Linked DNA regions of Homo sapiens: region 2 is linked to region 1. Evidence: fine-mapped expression QTL. A gene starts in region 1. The other region holds a variant in brackets. All regions are shown on one strand. Distances are between the middles of the regions.

Region 1 (11,068 bases):
ATCCTCCTCAGTGGAGAGCAGGGCCCCGCCCAGAGCACTCTGTGCCCTCCCGCCTACTCCAACCTCCCAGAGCTTCTGGATTTCCATCACTGCCGGACTTTTCTGTTCTCTCTCCTCACTGTGGAGTTTCAGGAATCATGAAGGAGCTGAACTGACCATCTCTGAGGTGCGCTGTCTACGTCTCACAATCTACAATGCCTTCCTTTTTAAGGGCCCTCCCTCTGAGGTGGCAGCCAAGTGCAGCACTGGCAGAGCCAGAGGCTCATCTACCTAGACTCCCTGGTGCCTCTGGTGTCCTCAGAGCTCAGGAGCAGAGGGCAGTGCTCTGCTGCCACCCTGCTGAGCCCTCCAAGGTGCCAGCTGCAAAACTCTTTCAAGGGACTGTTCCCTGGAGTTAGGTTCCAAGGGCCCCCCACCGAGAGCACACCTCTGCCCCCTCCCCTCCATTTATCCCACAAAGAGGGTTGCGGTCCACCAGGCCCCAGGCCAGCCCTGAAAGAGACAGCCCCTGTCCCCAGGGGCTCCCTACAGCCTGGCAGAGACAAGCAGGGGTAGAGGCAAGCATAAGTTGGAGAAGAGGTGCTACAAAGGAAAGTCCTACTTCAGAACAGGGCAAGACAGCTTTCTAGAAAAGGCAGTGTTTGAGTATTAATGAATAAATGGGATCTAGCTGGGGAAAGGCAATGGAGGTGGGGAGAATGAGGTGCAGGTGCCAAGGTCCCAAGGTGAGAAGGACAGGGGATGTGGACAGCTCCATGTAGGGGGATCTCCTGGGCGCAAGAGGTCTTGTGTGTTTAAGTTTTGGGGTTTGACTGTTAATCCAAGCGGAGGTACAGAAAGGTTTTAAGGAGTGGCATCTGTGCTTTGGAAGGGCAGTTTGGCAACAGGTTGGAAGGCAGACTGCAAGAGGCAATGCATGTCAGGAAAACCAGTTAGAAGAGTATTGCACTGAAGAGAGAATGGTGTCCTGAACTAAGGCAGAGGGAAATAAAGCATGAATGTGGAAATGACTTGGGAACAGAAGAGAAAGGAATTTGGTGATAAATGGAGGCAGCACAGCACAGGTGAGCTGGAGTCAGACTCTACTGTGGATCTTAGGCAAACTACACTTGTGCCTCAGCTTCCTCATTTATAAACCAGGAATGACAGTCATTAGCACCTGTCTTATAGTGTTGGTGGAAGATTGAAGGAGTTAATAGTATGTGAAGGCTTGGGGTACAGCCTAGCACATTATCTTACCCAGGAAATATTAACTATGATTATGAAGCTCAGAAAAGAAGAAAAAAGGAATGACTAAGTTCACTCCCAGGATTCTGGTTTGGGCAACTATGTATGCAGTTCTCAAAGTGTGTTCTGTGGACATCTAGAGGTCTCAATGACGCTTCAAAGTAGAATGTGAAGTCAAAACTATCTTACAGTAAAATGTATTTGTTTAACAATAAAATTGTTTTTAAAACTGCATCTCACCTGATTCTAATTTAAAAAATTGGCCAGGTGCAGTGGCTCATGCCTGTAATCCCAGCACTTTGGGAGGCCGAGGCGGGCGGTTGATTTAAGGTCAGGAGTTCAAGACCAGCCTGACCAACATGGTGAAACCTTGTCTCTACTAAAATACAAAGATTTTTTTTCCTTTATGTATGTTTTAGATAAGCATGAAGGATAAGCAAGTTTCATTAAATGGGAAGAAAATGTTTTATTCCTTTCTTGTTACATGAGAAATACTATTATTAAGCACCATTCATTTTTGCTTAGCTTCAAATGAGTCTCATGACAATAAAAACGTATGAAAAATACCTTGGTGAAAGTTTTGAACAATCTGACCAACAAGATAAAGTATTATTGAATTATAATTCAAATTATAAAACGAATATCCATGAGTGCATACTGATAGGAATAAATGACTAAGTTAATGAATGGGGAAAAAGAGACAAATCTCTAATGCAGAATAAATTAAAATAATACAGATACTTCACCCTAAAAAAGATCACTCCTCACTCCTTAGGTGTGGGCTGCACACAGTGACTTCCTTCCAAAGAGCACAGTATGGAAAGGGAGGAAAAAGAGTAATTTTACAATGGAGAAACCTGACAAACATTACCTCAGCCAAGCGGTCAAGATCAACATCAACAGTAATAAATCATGATGTCGGTATGAACTCTTAGTATGATGTGATGAAAATGGTACTTTATCTCTATGATCTTCCTCCCCAAACCCATAACCCCAGTCAACTCGTCTACCGGAATTCATCTGATGTTTTTGTCGCATGGTTAGCCTACAAAATACTTGACCAGCACTCCTCAAAACTGTTAAGGTCATCAAAACAAAAGTCTGAGAAACTGCCATGGCCAAGAGGAACCTAAGACATGACATCTAAATGTGATGGGTATCCTGGACGAGATCCTAGAGCAATAAAAAGATATTAGGTAAAAACTAAAGACATAGGAATAAAGTATGGACTTTAGTTAATAATAACACATCGACATTGATTCATTAAATAGCAAACACATCATAGGGTAATAAATATGCCATACTATAAGATGTCAATAACAGGGGAAACTGTGCATGTGTGGTGGGTGGGAGAGGGGAGTGAGTATATGGAAGTCCTGTTCCACCTGCTCAATTTTTCTTTAAAACTGTTCTAAAAAATAAAGTCTATTAATGTTTTTAAAAGCCTGGTATTTATTGGGAATAATTCCACCATCCGTCTATCATCCATCATGGTAACCTAGAGACCTAAAATTCTATAATGGGATATCCTACATACAATTCAAATCAGCATTTACCCAAGTCCTACTATATATGCCTTTGAACTGCTGAATACTGGCTATAAAAAGATGAACAAAACAATTTCCGAGGTCGAGTTGGAAATAAAAGACATTTAAATAAGTAATTTTTGTCCTGTAAGATGAGCATAACTGTAGCACAGGGAAAAGGATCTGTGAAGCTTCGACAGAGGAGATATACAAAAAAAAAAAAAAAAGGCACAGAATAAAGAAATGGGTGGGCTAAGCCTGAATTTTTTTTTTTAAGCCTGTGCCTCCAAGCATCTTCTGGGGTTTTTTCCTCCTGAAAATGAATGTCGGAGCAATCAAAATAGTTACCCCAGAGAAGCATGGTAGAGGCCAACAGTTTATTTACCATGGTGTTTTAACTTTACATGTACAATAGGGGAAATATACTTTAGGTGAATTTTAAAACGGATAAGTAGGAAAAGAGCAAGCTAAAAACAAACATACCCGCCCCCTACCCTTTATTTTCTCTTTTTTTAACAGACCCACTTGTCTATTGACCAGGTATCTGTAATATGGGAGAATTCACTCTATTCCTTTCCACACAAAGACGTCTTGGAATTTTCTAATTTCTCCTTTACTATGATTGCATTCTGTTCACATAATAGTCAAGGGTATGGAAAGAACATTTATAAGAGCAGTGTCTTTTAAAATCAATTTACTAGTTAACTCAGTACTGAGCATACATTCATCATTCAAAGATGATTCCCACAAACGTTACTCGACATACTGGTTTTCAGTATATTTTATCAAATTCAACCACGAGGGCCACCAGTTCTGCTTACGATCAGGTGACCCTTGTTGGGAGACCCCTGACCCCTTTTCTTGACATCATGCTGTTAGACCTTTAAGCTAGCTATACCGCTAACTGCGTTTTGAGTGACTGCAAAAGGGAGGCAACTTCTGCCCCGCCGAGAGCCATCCTAAGCGTTAGAAATGGCAGAAAGTTTCTTGGGACTGACAAGGCATGGGCTTCTCCTGATGCTGTCACCTTGGGCAAAGCTCCTACAGGTAAATTAGGGAGAGAATTATTTTGCCGGCGTCACGAGACGAAGAATCGAAAAAGTGTGAAAAAGGACTTCGCCCGCCCCAAAGCGCCCATCCGGCGGCGGCTATTTCCCGGGCCTCAAGCGCGCTCGAGCGGCGCAGCACAAAAGGCCGGGCGGGAGCGGGGGTCGCCGGGCGCCGCCTCCCGGTGCATCTCGGGAAGGGCTCCCGCCCGCGAGGCTCCGTCTCCCCGGCGCGGCCCGCTCGCCGTCCGGCTCGCTCAGGGCCTGGGCAGACGCGGCCCGCCCGAGCTACCGCGGGTTCCGAGACGCCTTCGCACTGCTCCTCCACCCGGGGGATCTTTGTTCCCGGAGCTGTTCCCCGCCTCGCTGCTCCCGCCGCAAAACCTGTTTGCGGAATACCCGCCGCAAGTCTGACTTGACGATGTGCAGTTTTGGGGTGCGCCAGTTGTGGGGGCATTCATAGAGGCAGCGAAGGGACCCCTAAGTTTAAACACCCGGGGAAGGATAAAGGAAGAGCGTCGGGCCCCCCTCCTCCCAACAGCGCTCGGGCGCGAACGGCGCCCTCCCGCGCTGCCGGCTCGCGCGGGCTCCGCAGGGCGCGCTGGCGGCGGCGGCGGGGCGGGGCGCGGCAGGCGGGCCCGGGGCCTGCACGTGGTGGCGATCTTTCTTCCCACCCGGCCAGGTCCCCGGGGACCACCGCGCTCAGGGGGAGGAGGAATGCCGTTCCCGGGCCCCGCTCCGGAGAGGGGTTTTACCCTCTGGGATCCCGGAATTGGAGGTGGAGAAGAGAGGAAGCAAGGGAGGGCGCGGCGTGGCGCGAGCGTTTCCTGCGCGGGGACTGCGGGGTGGCAGCTGGAGGCCACTGCAGGGGCAGAGCGGCGGGTTGGGGGAGCGACCGACCCATGGGGAGGGAAACCCGGTAGGGGGAGCAGGGAGCCGGAAAGCAGGGTTGATACATACCTGGGTGGGCGGGCTGGAAATGCCTTCCCTGGGCGCGCCGCGCAAGGCCGGCGGAGCGGGCTCCGGGTGGTCGCGGACCGGGACTGGGGAGAGCAGAGCCGCACTTGGCCAGGCGCGTGGCTGAGTGGTGTTTACATTCTGCAGCCACTCCACGTTGTGCTGCCGCCCGTGCCTCCCATTGGCCAGCTCTTCAGCCAACGCTTTGCTCCTCCCCGAGGGGCGGGCCCTCGGGTCCCCGCGTCGCTCAGGAAAGACCTGGGTTCCCTGAGGCCTTGGCGGGACAGCTAGGGCGCGCCCCTGGACGGTCACTTCCCAGCCACCCTATGGTCGCCCGAGTCGTGTCCCCCTGTTATGCGCCCGGGCTGAGCCGCAGGCTGACACCCCCGAAATCCAGGAGTTGCAGTGGGAGGAAGCAAAAGCAAACTGGCGGGAGATGCGCGAGCCAGGCGGCGGGGAGAACAGCCGCGGAGAAGGAGCCCCTGAGAGTTTCCCTACCGCCGCCGGCCGCGCCGTGGAGCGCGGTGGACGCGGGCAGAAGGCCCGGTAGAGTGGACCCCACGGCCGCTCCGGGTGGCGGGCGCGCACTGAGAGCAGGGCGCGGCGCGCGGGCACGCGGGCGGACGGGCGGGAGAGGGGAGCGCGCTGTCCGGAGGTGTCAGTCTGAGGCGCATGCGTGCGGGGCGGGACCGGCCCGGCCTATATATTGGGTTGGCGCCGGCGCCAGCTGAGCCGAGCGGTAGCTGGTCTGGCGGTGAGGAGTTGCTGCGCGTAGGGGGGATGTGGGAGGAAAGAAAGCCCAGTTGGGCCGATCACTTACCACAGGCGGGAGCCTCAGGGAGGAAAATCGGGAGGGCTGAGAACTAGACGACTGGGGGTCATGGGTTCCCGCGTTCCGTCCCTGTCAGGAACCTTGGCAGGGGACCGGGAAGCGGCTGGGCATGGAGAGCCGCCCCTCATTCTAGGGGCTTCTCTATCCCACCCTCATTTGGGGAGCTATCCCGTGGGAGAGAGGATGGGAGGCCGGGTCCCCTCCATGGGGAGAAAAGTTCCCAGCCAGCCCAGTCTCCCCTTTCTTTAGCTCCTTTTCCTGCCCTCCCCCACGCCCTCCGCTTCCCATCTGGAGTTGGGGTCCCGGCGCCCCTCCGAGCGGCGGTAGGGCGGCAGGGCCGGGAAGGAGGGAAAGGAGACTGGAGGCCGTGACACCAGTCTTGGTTCCTCCGCCCCCTGCTTCCCCGCCACCGCCGCTCTCCAAATTGGCGCGGAACCGGCTTCTCCACAGCATTTCGCCTCCACAACCCCCTCTCCCCGCTGGTCCAGGAGGGAGGCGGGACGTGGGGGCGCTGCCCAAGCCCCACTCCCGGTGTACGGGGGAGAGGGTGGAGGACCCAGAAAAACCCGTTTGAGGAAGATGTGCCTCCCTGCGCGTTCAAGGTGTCAGGAGTGCTTGGTAAATTTTTGGACACTCGCGTTCCAGCTGTACATTCAGTTGAGGAAATGCAGGCTTGTATCCAAAATGAATTACCATGAGCTAGCTAACATAGCACAGAAGATGGCAGGGTCACAGGGCCCAGGCCCCCTTCGGAGGGACTGAGCTTTCACCTGCGAATCAGCGTCTTACTGGCACTTGGAGAATGTGAATGACAATGTACTTGACTGCGGCTTTTCCTCTCCCCCCTTCAGAGGTTTTATACACCTGAAAGAAGAGAATGTCAAGACGAAGGTAACATTATCTGTCTTAGAGACATGTTTCAAATTAGTTGCTGCCTTTAACTTACTAATTACACTTCCTTTTTAAAAATTCACTACAGTAGCCGTTTACAAGCTAAGCAGCAGCCCCAGCCCAGCCAGACGGAATCCCCCCAAGAAGCCCAGATAATCCAGGCCAAGAAGAGGAAAACTACCCAGGTGATTTAAGGAGAAAGAGGGAGGAACGAAATTCCATGCTGGGACTTTAGTTTACCAATGGTCTTTTCTATTTTCCAGGATGTCAAAAAAAGAAGAGAGGAGGTCACCAAGAAACATCAGTATGAAATTAGGGTAATGCAGAACTGGGCTGGGTGGGTTTGGGGGAAAAATGGAGGATAGATGAATAAGAATAGAATTATGTGTTTATTGCTTTGCGATAGATTCCTCTGACACTTTTACTTTTAATGCCCCTAGAGGTCAGCAGGAAGGCGCCTATCTTTGGGTGGTTTCTATGTGCCCGAATCCTACTACAGCTGCAGAATAAGTGCCTTCAAGCAGCTGGTTCCTTTTTGTAAATCCCTCCCTCTTGGAACTGCCTGGTGCACCAGGGCCCGCCTAATCTGTCCAATATACTGCTCTTTGTTCCCTCGCAGACTCTAGTAGACGGTCCTAATAGCTGCTTCTTGGGCATAAATAGGATGTGAGATCACTGACAGCCTGGCACGCAGCCCTTTGGTACCTCTTCTTCCTATGTGTTTTACAGAAAGCAGCACTTTGGAGATAGTGATTGCGTTTGAAACCAGCATTATTGGGAAAAGAATCGTTTAAGTAATCGATTCCATTTTTAAGGTTTTGCTTTCAAATATTCAAAAGTATCAGAGCACACTTTTTTTAAAAAGAGCTTATTTGAAAAAAAAAAAAAAAGGTCCCTGCTACTATTGCTAGATACAGAGAACGATTCTGTGATCTTGAAAGTGATTAGTATTTTAGACTGCAGATGCATTTTGTTATTACTGTCCTTCTTCGACACCTGGTGTCTTCTATTACCAGAATTGCATTTTGTTGTCTAAAACATCCTATTACTCTTTATAAAAATCAATATGAGCTATATGGCTTGTTTATAAAATGTGAATGTCAAATTAGCTATATTGCCATCTATGTTAGCTAAAATTATGATTCTTTAGACATATTAGCTTTCATTTATGAAAGATCCATTACAAAAACTAAGGTTTTCCTTGCACAAATTGATATTTTTCTTTTTTTTTATGACAGAATTGTTGGCCACCTGTATTATCTGGGGGGATCAGTCCTTGCATTATCATTGAAACACCTCACAAAGAAATAGGAACAAGTGATTTCTCCAGATTTACAAATTACAGATTTAAAAATCTTTTTATTAATCCTTCACCTTTGCCTGATTTAAGGTAAGAAAAATTTCAGTAATTTTATTTCAAAGATATAAAGTTGTGCTGATTTAATACATGGCACTATTTTGTCTTTTGCTTTCATAAAGTAGAAAAACGTGTAAAAATTGTTTACTAATATTTAATCATATGTCATTTTATCTGAGAGTAGTGCTGGTTGCAAATGATATGGGTATTTAAAACACTGATTCTATAAAATTATTTTCATTTGCTTGCTGAGTACTATAAAGACTTAACAGGACTGAATTAGTTTTTTGTTAAGATAGAAACATTTTTACATGTACAGCTTTTTCCTTTAAAATTTTTATTCGTGTTTCTTGCAGCTTCAACTCAAAGGAAGCTTTTCCAATTGATGTATCAACCCTATTTATTTCTTACCAAACTTAATAAGGTCTATACTTAATTCTTTTTTCTAGTCCATGAGTGTAACTAAGAGGTACAGCTTATACAAAACATGTACTGTATTAATTTATGATTGGCCTTAATAAGCAATTTAATGGAATCAGACACTTAAACTCACCAATCCCCCTTTCCCTGCATTCTGTCCCACCTTACCCACCCCATAGGTGATCCTGCTGTAGATGATCTATTTAGAGGTGATTGAGACTTCTCTTGACTGTGATCACATGCCTTATGTGTTTAACTTTTTTGTATTGCTCTTGAGAAAACATTTTTTTTCACTTTTAATTGCATTTATTTTAGTGCTGAATTTACTCCTGTGCCATAAGTTTTTGTTTCTTCAGTTTCTTCTGGGATATCTTTTTCTTCTGGGCAACCGCCTCTTCTGGTTTAGGAACAATTTGTTCCTTTTCACTAAAGATCATTTCGATGTGGCAGGGAGAGATCACGTGTGAGTTAATCCGACCATGAGCTCTGTAGGTCCGTTGGCACATCGTAGGTGCTTTGTTCACTTGGAGATGCTCAATGACCAGAGAATCTACATCTAAACTCTTAAGTTCAGCATTACTCTCTGCATTTTTAAGCATGTGCAGCAAAAATTCAGCACTCTTTTTGGGCCACCAACCTTGTGTCCAGTCCCACTGCTTGGCCTGGGTACACCTACCAACTCCACCATTGTAATGTCAGAATGGCACATGCTGTTTCTGTAAAGTGACATTTTAAAAATACTTCATGGTGTTTTTTTTTTTTTTTTTTTTTGGAGACAGAGGTTTGCTGTTGTTGCCCAGGCTGGAGTGCAGTGGCACGATCTCGGCTCACTGCAACCTCCACCTCCTGGGTGCAAGTGATTCTCCTGCCTCAGCCTCCTGAGTAGCTGGGATTACAAGCATGCCACCACGCCCAGCTAATTTTTTGTATTTTTAGTGGAGACGGGGTTTCACCATGTTGGCCAGGCTGGTCTCGAACTCCTGACCTTAAGTGATCCACCCACCTTGGCCTCCCAAAGTGCAGGGATTACAGGTGTGAGCCACTGTGCCGGCCACTTTGTGGTTTTTCATATATGCATACCCTTGATAGCCTGGGCAGTTTCACGAGTGTTCTTACAGTGAACACAAAGATTTGAACCTCTTGATTTGCATGATTTTGTGGGGTTTTCCAGGTAAAGTGAATAGCCAGCTATTTTCACAGATTACTTCAGACCACTTATGGGAAAAGCAACGTGGTTATCTTTTAACAGCAACCTTTGTAAAGTATAAATAAGTGGAACTAGAAAGCACTCCCTTGAAATCTGCAGGTTTGGATGATCATAGTCCAGGTTCCCACTGTGTTACTTCAGGCTTCTATTTATTCATGCAAAGGAAATTGTTTCCAAAAATTAAGGCAGAAGTTTTTTTTCTTATTTACTTTAAGAGCTTCTTCCAAGTTCTAATTAAAAGTTGCATTTCAATGTCTGAAAGTTGAATTTTATCTATGTGAAACAGAGTTTGTATATTACATGGATTGCACAATTTAAATTATGTTTTTTAGCCGGGCATGGTGGGTCACGCCTGTAATCCCAGCACTTTGAGAGGCTGAGGCAGGTCGATCACTTGAGGCCAGGAGTTCGAGACTAGCCCAGCCAACATGGTGAAACCCCATCTCTACTAAAAATACAAAAACTAGCCAGGCTTGGTGGCAGGCACCTGTAACTCCCAGCTACTTGGGAGGCTGAGGCACAAGAATCGCTTGAACCCAGGAGGTGGAGATTACAGTGAGCCAAGATTGTGCCGCTGCACTCTAGCCTGGGCCACAGAGCGAGACTCTGTCTCAAAAAAAAAAAAAAAAAAATATATATATATATATATGGTTTTTTTCCTCTCTTTCCATAGCTGGGGATGTTCAAAAGAAGTCTGGCTAAACATGTTAAAAAAGGAGAGCAGATATGTTCATGACAAACATTTTGAAGTTCTGCATTCTGACTTGGAACCACAGATGAGGTCCATACTTCTAGACTGGCTTTTAGAGGTATGTTACAGCAATACAAATTTCCTTTGTCTCTGTATGATGGAAACATATTTAGCTGTAAATGTGCTTTCTATGTACTCTCAAGAGTTTATTGTTCATCCCCAGGAAGCTGTCTTTTTTGAGGTACTTACTGTAGTTGATTGCACCCAAAGTGGAAAGTGACTCTATAAGAGTAAAACCATGACAAAGCTACTACATATAACTAAACCCAATTCAGAATTCCTGTTACCTGTGGATACTGCTGTGTACCAACCACTTTCTGGGTGCCACAGATACTCAAGGTGAATGGAATGTATAGTTGATTAGGTTTTGAATTATGCTATACAAAGTGAAGAACTAGAACTAGGCTTCAGGGCCCTCTGAAGTCTTTTTCTGTATTAACAAAATCATGATGATGAGGAATCCTGATTTCTATATCCTAAACCATAATGAGACTATGGATATCTGGAAGCTCTACGCCCTCTATTGTCCAGATACCTTCTCTTTATTATATTCTTCTATTCTTTTCCGAAATATACCATTAATTTAAAGGAATAGTGATCCTGAAGCCCCTATAGATTTGTGCCAGATTTTTCTCTCTTGTTTAGGTCCATTCCCTTTCCTCTGGATAATAGCTCTAAAAAAGTTTCTAAAATTATTATTAAGGAAATCATTACTTATGTTGATGACAAACTGATTTTTCCTCCAACTCTTGGATATTTGCTCTGTAGTCTGTCTTTAAGACAAGAGATGAAGCATTCTAAGGGAAAAAGACCATAGACTTTTTGGAGGAGGAACACATGGCAGAATAGATCTC
Region 2 (8,000 bases), 31 kb after region 1:
CATGATTTCTTCAAGTAAATGAACCCTTTTTCCTCCCCTAAAAAAAGTCCCCATCATCTTACTGTGATTCTCAGGTAGTGCATGCAAAAGGGAATATTTCTCAAAGTAATTAAAGAAGTTTAGTTTAGTTCCTACAGCAACTAAAAGAGATTGGGAGCCTTTTGATAACTGCAGCATTAGATGAGACATACAAAAAATTATGAAAAAAGAAATCACTTTCAAATAGATACTTGTAAAAGAAATAAGATGCTGGAAACCTGATAGAAAGTCATTCTTTCATTGGCCCCAATTTTCCAATTCTACTGAAAATCAGGACCACTTATATCTTCTGTTCCAAGGCTGATAAATCTTAACTCCTACTTAAGAGTTATGCTGGGCCAGGTGTGGTAGCTCCTGCCTGTAATCCCAGCACTTTGGGAGGCTGAGGTGGGCAGATCACTTGAGGTCAGGAGTTTGAGACCAGCCTGGCCAACATGGCAAAACCATGTGTCTACTAAAAATACAAAAATTAGCCAGGCGTGGTGGTGGGTGCCTGTAATCCCAGCTATTTGGGAGGCTGAGGCATGAGAATTGCTTGAGCCCAAGAGGCAGAGATTGCAGTGAGCAGAGATTGTACCACTGCATTCCAGCCTGGGCAACAGAGTGAGACTCTGCCTCAAAAAAAAAAAAAAAAAAAAGGGTTATGCCTTATCCACAATTTACAGGAAGATAATTATCATTATCATAATAGAGAAACACAAAGACTGTAGAATCTTAGATTTCTGGCCCTTTAATAAAATTATCTAAGGGTATCTATACTAGTCAGAATGGTTTCCAAATACATAACTCAATTAATAAAATAAAAGCTATACCACTACTTACTTGGGAATGGAAGATGGCCAAATAGAAATGTGTTCAGCTGTAATATCATTCACAATGTCCTCCTTTAAAAAGAAAAAAAAAGGTGTGATTTACAAAGAAATTTCTTTTAAATTTTTCTAAATGAAATTATGAAATACTTACCCGAACATTGTGAAGTTTCACAAAGAGTGATAAAATAATAGTCAAAACGAGTGGTTCCTATGAGAAAGAAAACACAGAATCCTTAAACAGTGTATGTATATTTATTTAATATTGCTCCTGTCAACCTCACAGACATCAAGCATTCTAAAAGACCCTTGCCTTTTGAAAATGTAGCATCTGTTTTAGCATGTGCTTTAGCACACTAAAAATCAACTTTTTAATCGCATGTGGGGGCGGGGCGTGGACCATAGCACATAATTTACATAAAATTAGCATAAATGTTTGGCTTATGGTGCTATCTCCACGCTCAACTCCTCACATGACTCTCAAGTAACTTTTTATCCCTTAAAATAATGTTCAAAGAGTGAAACCTAGGTTACGTCCAATAAGTAAATATGACATTGATCCTACTAAGCAAAAATTAAAGCCAGGCTTCACACATCTAGCCCCTATTATGAAGACTTCTTTACAATTTAAAGAAATACCTGCTCCGTTCACTAAAACATGGTAAAGTAAATGCAATACAAACTTTTCCAGTCAGAATATCCCACCCACCAATAATGATCACTGAAGAAAAGCACATTAACAGGTCACTTTAATAATTTAACCAGAGGCCAGGCAAGGTGGCTAACACCTGTAATCCCAGCACTGTGAGGGGCCAAGAAGGGATGATAATTTGAGACCAGGAGTTAGAAACTAGCCTGGGCAACAAGGGGAGACCTCATCTCTACAAAAAATTAGCTGGGCATGGTTACATGTGCCTGTAGTCCCAGTTCCTCAGAAAGCTGAGGCAGGAGGACTGCTTAACCTCAAGAATTAGAAGACGCAGTGAGTTACAATCACACCTCAGCACTCCAGCTTGGGTGACAGATCAAGACCCTGTCCCTTAAAAAAAAATTAAAAAACAAATAATAATTTAGTCAGTATTTGAAGTACCCAATAATTTTTAGTCATATTCTACAAAAACCAGCAATAGTAATTAGAGCAATTTTTAATAAAACTTACTCGTAATTTTTTGATAAAAGAAAGCAGTTCACTCCTACAAAACAAAAATTTTTGAATACACATTTAATATTAGAAATAAAAAATAAAATCAAGAAAGTAAATTATAGGTGAAGGTTTATTCTTAATGCTCCAATTCTGCAAGTGTGAAAAGGAATGTAATATTCTACTGTTATACTAACCTAATAACATTTCTTCCCTGTTTTAATCACATGTGAAGTCTTCAATACTATCCAACCTTAAATACTACTGATTTTGAATTCCAGTTGATTAAATGATTAATAGTTTCTTAAAATGACATATAAACAAAAGATCTTTCCAAAGGTGGCCAAGGCAGACAGGTTCATCACAGGTGAGTACTACAGAACTCGTAAGATTGTCCAACTTTATGATATACAGAATAAAAGCTGATGTTCTTGAAATCAACCTTTAATAGGTTAATAGTATAAATAGGATAAATATTAAGAACTCAAACACAACTAATAGAAACGTACCAATACATACCGATACATGATACCTAACGTAGATTCCCTCTGTTTTATTAAACTAACTCTGCCATCATTTCCTCGTTTGTGCTGACTGGACACACTACAGATTTGAACAACAACTTCCCAAAGGTCTTTGGCAGTCCGTCTACTTTCTTTAGGGCCTGGAAGTTCTTTGCATGTAGCTGCTAAAAGCTGTCCAAGCTATAACATGAAAAACAAAATACACAAAAGATAATCTGTAATGTCGTGCACATTAGTTCTATTATCAAGGCACACTGGAGGAAAGATGGAATGACTGCCCAAACATACTAAGCACAGTTATTTTATGCTGTGCATTCTGTACAACCTTTGAGGAATTTAGGGCTCATTGCGTACTGACAGATCTGAATCTGAGAAAGATCCTCTGGTTCGAGCATACGAACTTTGTTTCTGAACAGTTATAGTCTAATGAAAACGAAAATGAGACAACGCAAAGAGATAGGTGATTTATTAAGTGGAAAAAAAAACGAGTTGCTAAATACACATAGTATGATCCCACGTTACATAGGGAAAAAAAAGTGTAATGGAAGGCATACACCAAGATGTTAACTGTGGTAAAAGCCCAGGGGGTGAGGTTAAAATAGTGCTCAGATCTCTCTCTCTCCCACGTGCAAATACACACACATACAACTTTTAATCACTAAAAAAAAAAATTGTTTCAACGAAAAAAATAAGGAAAGGAATAAGGAAACTGAAGTTGGCAGAATTAAGGGATATAGATTTAAAGCAATTTTTCTCTAAGAAAATTGGTAGCAACTGGGAATGGAGCTACTGCTCTTCTGAGGAGGTAGAATTAAGGCAGGACAGGTTACACAAAGTGACTGGTATGAATAAAGGCAGCCTCAATGACCTAGGATGTAGGGAGGACCCAGAAATAAAGAGTGGGAAAGCTAAAAGCAAAAGACAGGGAAAGATTGACTTACAATAAATTCAGAATTTCTTTTATTTTCTTTTCTTTTTGGAGGCAGGGTCTTGCTCTGCACCCAGGCTGGAATGCAGTGGTATAATCTTGGCTCACTGCAACCTCCGCCTCCCAGGCTCAAACGATTTTTGTGCCTCAGCCTCCTGAGTAGCTGGAATTACAGGCATGTGTCACCATGCCCGGCTAATTTCTGTATTTTTAGTAGAGACGGGGTTTCACCATGTTGGCCAGGCTGGTCTCGAACTCCTGGCCTCAAGTGATCTATCCGCCTCGGCCTCCCAAAGTGCTGAGATTACAGGCTTGAGCCACAGCATCTGGCCAAATTCAGAACTGGGCCCCTTTACCCTTGTTCATATTAACTTTTATACTCCATCGCTCTTGTAGAGGGTGCAGTAGCAAGGATAATTTCAAATCCATCAGGAACCCCTGGTTTCTACTTAAAATGGACCTAGGGGTCCCTACTGCTTAAGGCGGCTTTTTTAAGGAGGTGGCAAGATTGTGACAAGGACAAAAATTGGTGGTTTTTCTCTACATTTTTTTGTTATGAAAAATTTCAAACAGAAAAATAAAAAAAAAAGTTCAATAAATACCTGACACATTGTGACTATTCTGCCATGTTTGCTTTATATATCTACATAAATTTTTTTGTTAAACCATATTAAACTAAGTTAGACACAATATTTCATCCCTAAATACTTCCACATACATCTTCTAAGGACGAGGACATTCTTCTCCATAACCACAACTCTGTGATCATGCCTAAGAAAATTAACAAGAGTACTGTGGCTTTCCGAAGCTCGTGAGAATAACATAAAAACCCTGCCTATACTAGGTGAATAGACATGGACCAATGGCCTAGCAGGATATTTCATCCTGCAAGCTTACCTAAAATACTCTTCTCTGACAAATGGAATCACAATACATGCAGCTATTCACTGCAGTGTAATGCCAGGGCTACTGTAGCTCTTAGCTCAAATTCATCTTCTGTTGTCAGGGATCATATGCTTTAAGGTCACTGAATTTATTACATAAATTTAATTTAAAAAATTTTCAAAGTCTAAGGCCTCAAATCAATTGAATTCCACAAACATTCTTGAGCACCTACTATGTGTGGTGGGCATCATGGAAAGCACAACATAAAAATTAACTGCCCTGAAGCAGTTCATTGTCTTATAGAGAAGACAAGTGGATATATAACTTACTATTCAGCATAAACACAACAAAAGAAATAAGTCAACAGTACAACAGTAGCAGGATCAGTACAACAGTACAAAGGAAGCAGGAAGAGGAAGTGATT[T/C]ACTCATTTACAGAGAAAAGAATATGGGAAAGCATCAGAGAAATCACACAAACACGCAAAGCTGGAAAGGACATCCTGGCTAATGTGACAAACAGCGTGTGCACAGGTGCAGAATGGAAACATGGCGTGGGCATGCTGGTGCTGCCAGCACAGGGCTGGAACGCCAAGGGGCAGGGGAACTGCACCTGGAGGAGGAGAAGCATGCACACCTTAAGAAGCCTGGTAGGCCACATGAACAACCTAAGGTTTTAGCCTATACTAGCACCACTGTGGCTGCCAACCCCCCACTACTACCTAGGTTCTTATCATCCAAGTGCCTATAACCTGTGCCCTTTCCATTATGTGACACTGCCACCCACTCTGATCCAAGGGGCAGACTAGACAGTTTTATATTATTTCAAAAGGGTATATTTTAGTGACATGCTTAAGAATTTTCTGTTCCTATTTGTGATTACGTAATATATGAGTAGGAAAATATGTTCCTATGTAACAGAATAGAAAACATTAAAATCACCAAATTTCCCATTATCTAGAGATAATGGCTGTTAATATCCTTTCAGACTTTTTCCTACACGTGTGTGCGTGTGTGTGTGTGGTGCATTCCACACCAGCTTGGAAGTGTGGAAACTGATTCAGATTGTATTTTTTTCAAAACACAATCCCTCATTCTAAACTTCTTTCTCTAATTCCTTTTTCCTTGACATTAACAAGGCAGTGAGAGGCCAATTATGTATGGAAGGTGGCACACAAAACCCTAACCACCAGATGACATATGAAGAGACATCTAAGTGACAATTCTTTCGCAAAGTCACCACACATCCTTCCTCCTTTTGGACCAGATCAGGGGAACTGCAGGAAGCAGTGAGACAGCCTCTCCCAGAGTTAGGCAACCAACAAAACAATTTCCTGTGTCCTTACACATTGCAGACCCTCAAGCATTCATTACACAAACACATGCCTATCTCTCCTGGTGCACAGCTCCACAGAATTCACTGCCAGAGGTAAAGAGAAGAGTTACTATGCTGTCTTTGCACTCAGTGACAAGCTATGATTGTAAGTGTAAATGACAGTAACCTTGGAACACAACGGTTCCCTCATCTGATTTTCTTAAAGGCTAAGAAATTACTGGTGTCCATAATGAGACAAGTGCCCAATATATTAAGAACTCACATGCCAGAAAGTTCACTAAAGAGATAGAAATGATTCAGGTCGGGCACGGTGGCTTATGCCTGTAATCCCAGCACTTTGGGAGGCCCAGGCGGGGGGATCACCTGAGGTCAGGAGTTCTAGACCTGCCATGGCAAAACCCCGTCTCTATTAAAAATACAAAACAAAAAAAAACTACCCGGGTGTGGTGGTGCATGCCTGTAATGCCAGCTACTTGGGAGGCTGAGGCACAAGAATGGGTTGAAACTGGGAGGTAGAGGTTGCAATGAGCCGAGATTGTGCCAGTGCACTCCAGCCTGGGCGACAGAGGGGGACTCAGTCTCCAAAAAAAAGAAGAGATAGATATGATTCAATGTCTGAAATTTCAAAGAAAAGGGTAATTCAAGTATGGCAGTTTTCACGAGCAAGTGTAAAGATAACAAAAAGGGCCGGGCCGGGCGCGGTGGCTCACGCCTGTAATCCCAGCACTTTGGGAGGCCGAGGTGGGCGGATCACCTGAGGTCGGGAGTTCAGACCCGCCTGACTAACATGGAGAAACCCCATCTCTACTAAAAATACAAAATTAGCCAGGCGTGGTGGTGCGTGCCTGTAATCCCAGCTACTCGGGGGGCTGAGGCAGGAGAATTGCTTGAATCTGGGAGGCAGAGGTTGCGGTGAGCCGAGATCGTGCCATTGCACGCCAGCCTGGGCAACAAGAGCAAAACTCCGTCTCAAAAAAAAGGGCCGGGCTCGATGGCTCACGCCTGTAATCCCAGCACTTTGGGAGGCCAAGGCGGGCAGATCACGAGGTCAGGAGATTGAGACCATCCTGGCTAACACGGTGAAACCCCGTCACCACTAAAAATACAAAAAATTAGCCGGGCATGGCAGTGGGCGCCTGTAGTCCCAGCTACTCGGGAGGCTGAGGCAGGAGAATGGCGTGAACCCGGGAGGCGGAGCTGGCAGTGAGCCGAGATCGCGCCACTGCACTCCAGCCTGGGCGACAGAGCGAGACTCCGTCTCAAAAAAAAAAAAAAAAAAAAAAATTACAAAAAGGGGGGAAAAACTGAAGAAATCAATAAACTCAATAAATCCTGAAAGGGTTAAAATGAAATGAGCTCAGTTTTTAAAAGGACATACGTGAAGGAAGAAACAAGTAACCAAACACAAATGTTACAAAGTGGCACAGTTTTACAAAAGTTCCCAGAAAAACACAGATTTAAAGGATTTTTTTTTTTTTTTTTTTGAGACAGAGTCTCACTCTGTCGCCCAGGCTGGAGTGCAGTGGCGCCATCTCGGCTCACTGCAAGCTCCGCCTCCCGGGTTCATGCCATTCTCCTGCCTCAGCCTCCCGAGTAGCTGGGACTACAGGAGCCCGCCACTACGCCCGGCTAATTTTTTTTGTATTTTTAGTAAGGACGGGGTTTCACCTTGTTAGCCAGGATGGTCTCCATCTCCTGACCTCGTGATCTGCCCGTCTCGGCCTCCCAAAGTGCTGGGATTGCAGGCGTGAGCCACTGCACCCAGCCGATTTAAAGGACTTTGTATTACCAAAGACAAGTTGGGACAAACAAAGAATAACAAAAGGTAATAGGAACAATTAAAAATAATGGGAAAATCTGAAGCACCAAATATACCCAAAAAGGAGACAGGGACGTATAATGTTAAATCACTACATGTTTTACTTTGTTTTTTGGGTTTTTTTTTTTTTTTTTTTTTTTTTGAGGTAGAGTTTCGCTCTTGTTGCCCAGGCTGGAGTGCAATGGCACCATCTCAGCTCACGCAAACTCTGCCTCCCGGGTTCAAGCGATTCTCCTGCCTCAGCCTCCTGAGTAGCTAGGACTACAGGCACCTGCCACCACACCTGGCTAATTTTTGTATTTTCAGTAGAGACAGGGTTTCACCATATTGGCCAGGCTGGTCTTGAACTCCTGACCTTGTGATCCGCACGTCTTGGCCTCCCAAAGTGCTGGGATTACAGGCGTGAGCCACCACGCCCAGCCTACTTTGTTTTTTTTTTAACTGTAAAACCAGAAAGTGAGAAAAACCCACTACTTACTCAGAGTGTGTATAATATTAACACATGAAAGATATAATCTTAGAA

Direction of the effects. Positions count from the first base shown, and alleles are read on the strand shown. Sizes are in standard deviations (SD) of each study's normalised expression.
With allele C in place of T in region 2, the expression in monocytes after Pam3CSK4 of the gene that starts at base 5,486 in region 1 is higher (large effect, 1.1 SD a copy in Quach 2016).

What was found.
Region 2: its variant is fine-mapped to the expression of CCNE2 in monocytes after Pam3CSK4 (Quach 2016, PIP 0.95).

What each region holds. Positions count from the first base shown.
Region 1 is chr8:94,889,619-94,900,686 of GRCh38, reverse strand. It overlaps CCNE2 (cyclin E2), which reads left to right and starts at 5,486. Exons shown (of 12, transcript NM_057749.3): 1 at 5,486-5,510; 2 at 6,440-6,479; 3 at 6,568-6,664; 4 at 6,743-6,796; 5 at 7,718-7,869; 6 at 10,137-10,272. The coding sequence starts at 6,466. It also overlaps the pseudogene LOC100128548 and a transcript of NDUFAF6 not described here. RefSeq lists silencers at 3,897-4,116, 4,397-4,446, 4,617-4,666, 4,797-4,896, 5,277-5,496 and an enhancer at 6,113-6,674.
Region 2 is chr8:94,860,199-94,868,198 of GRCh38, reverse strand. It overlaps INTS8 (integrator complex subunit 8), which reads right to left. Exons shown (of 27, transcript NM_017864.4): 17 at 2,509-2,693; 18 at 2,008-2,041; 19 at 1,003-1,059; 20 at 862-923. Among named protein-coding and RNA genes, the nearest start is that of CCNE2, 31 kb to the left of the region's middle. The variant T/C (reference allele first, on the strand shown) is at 4,751.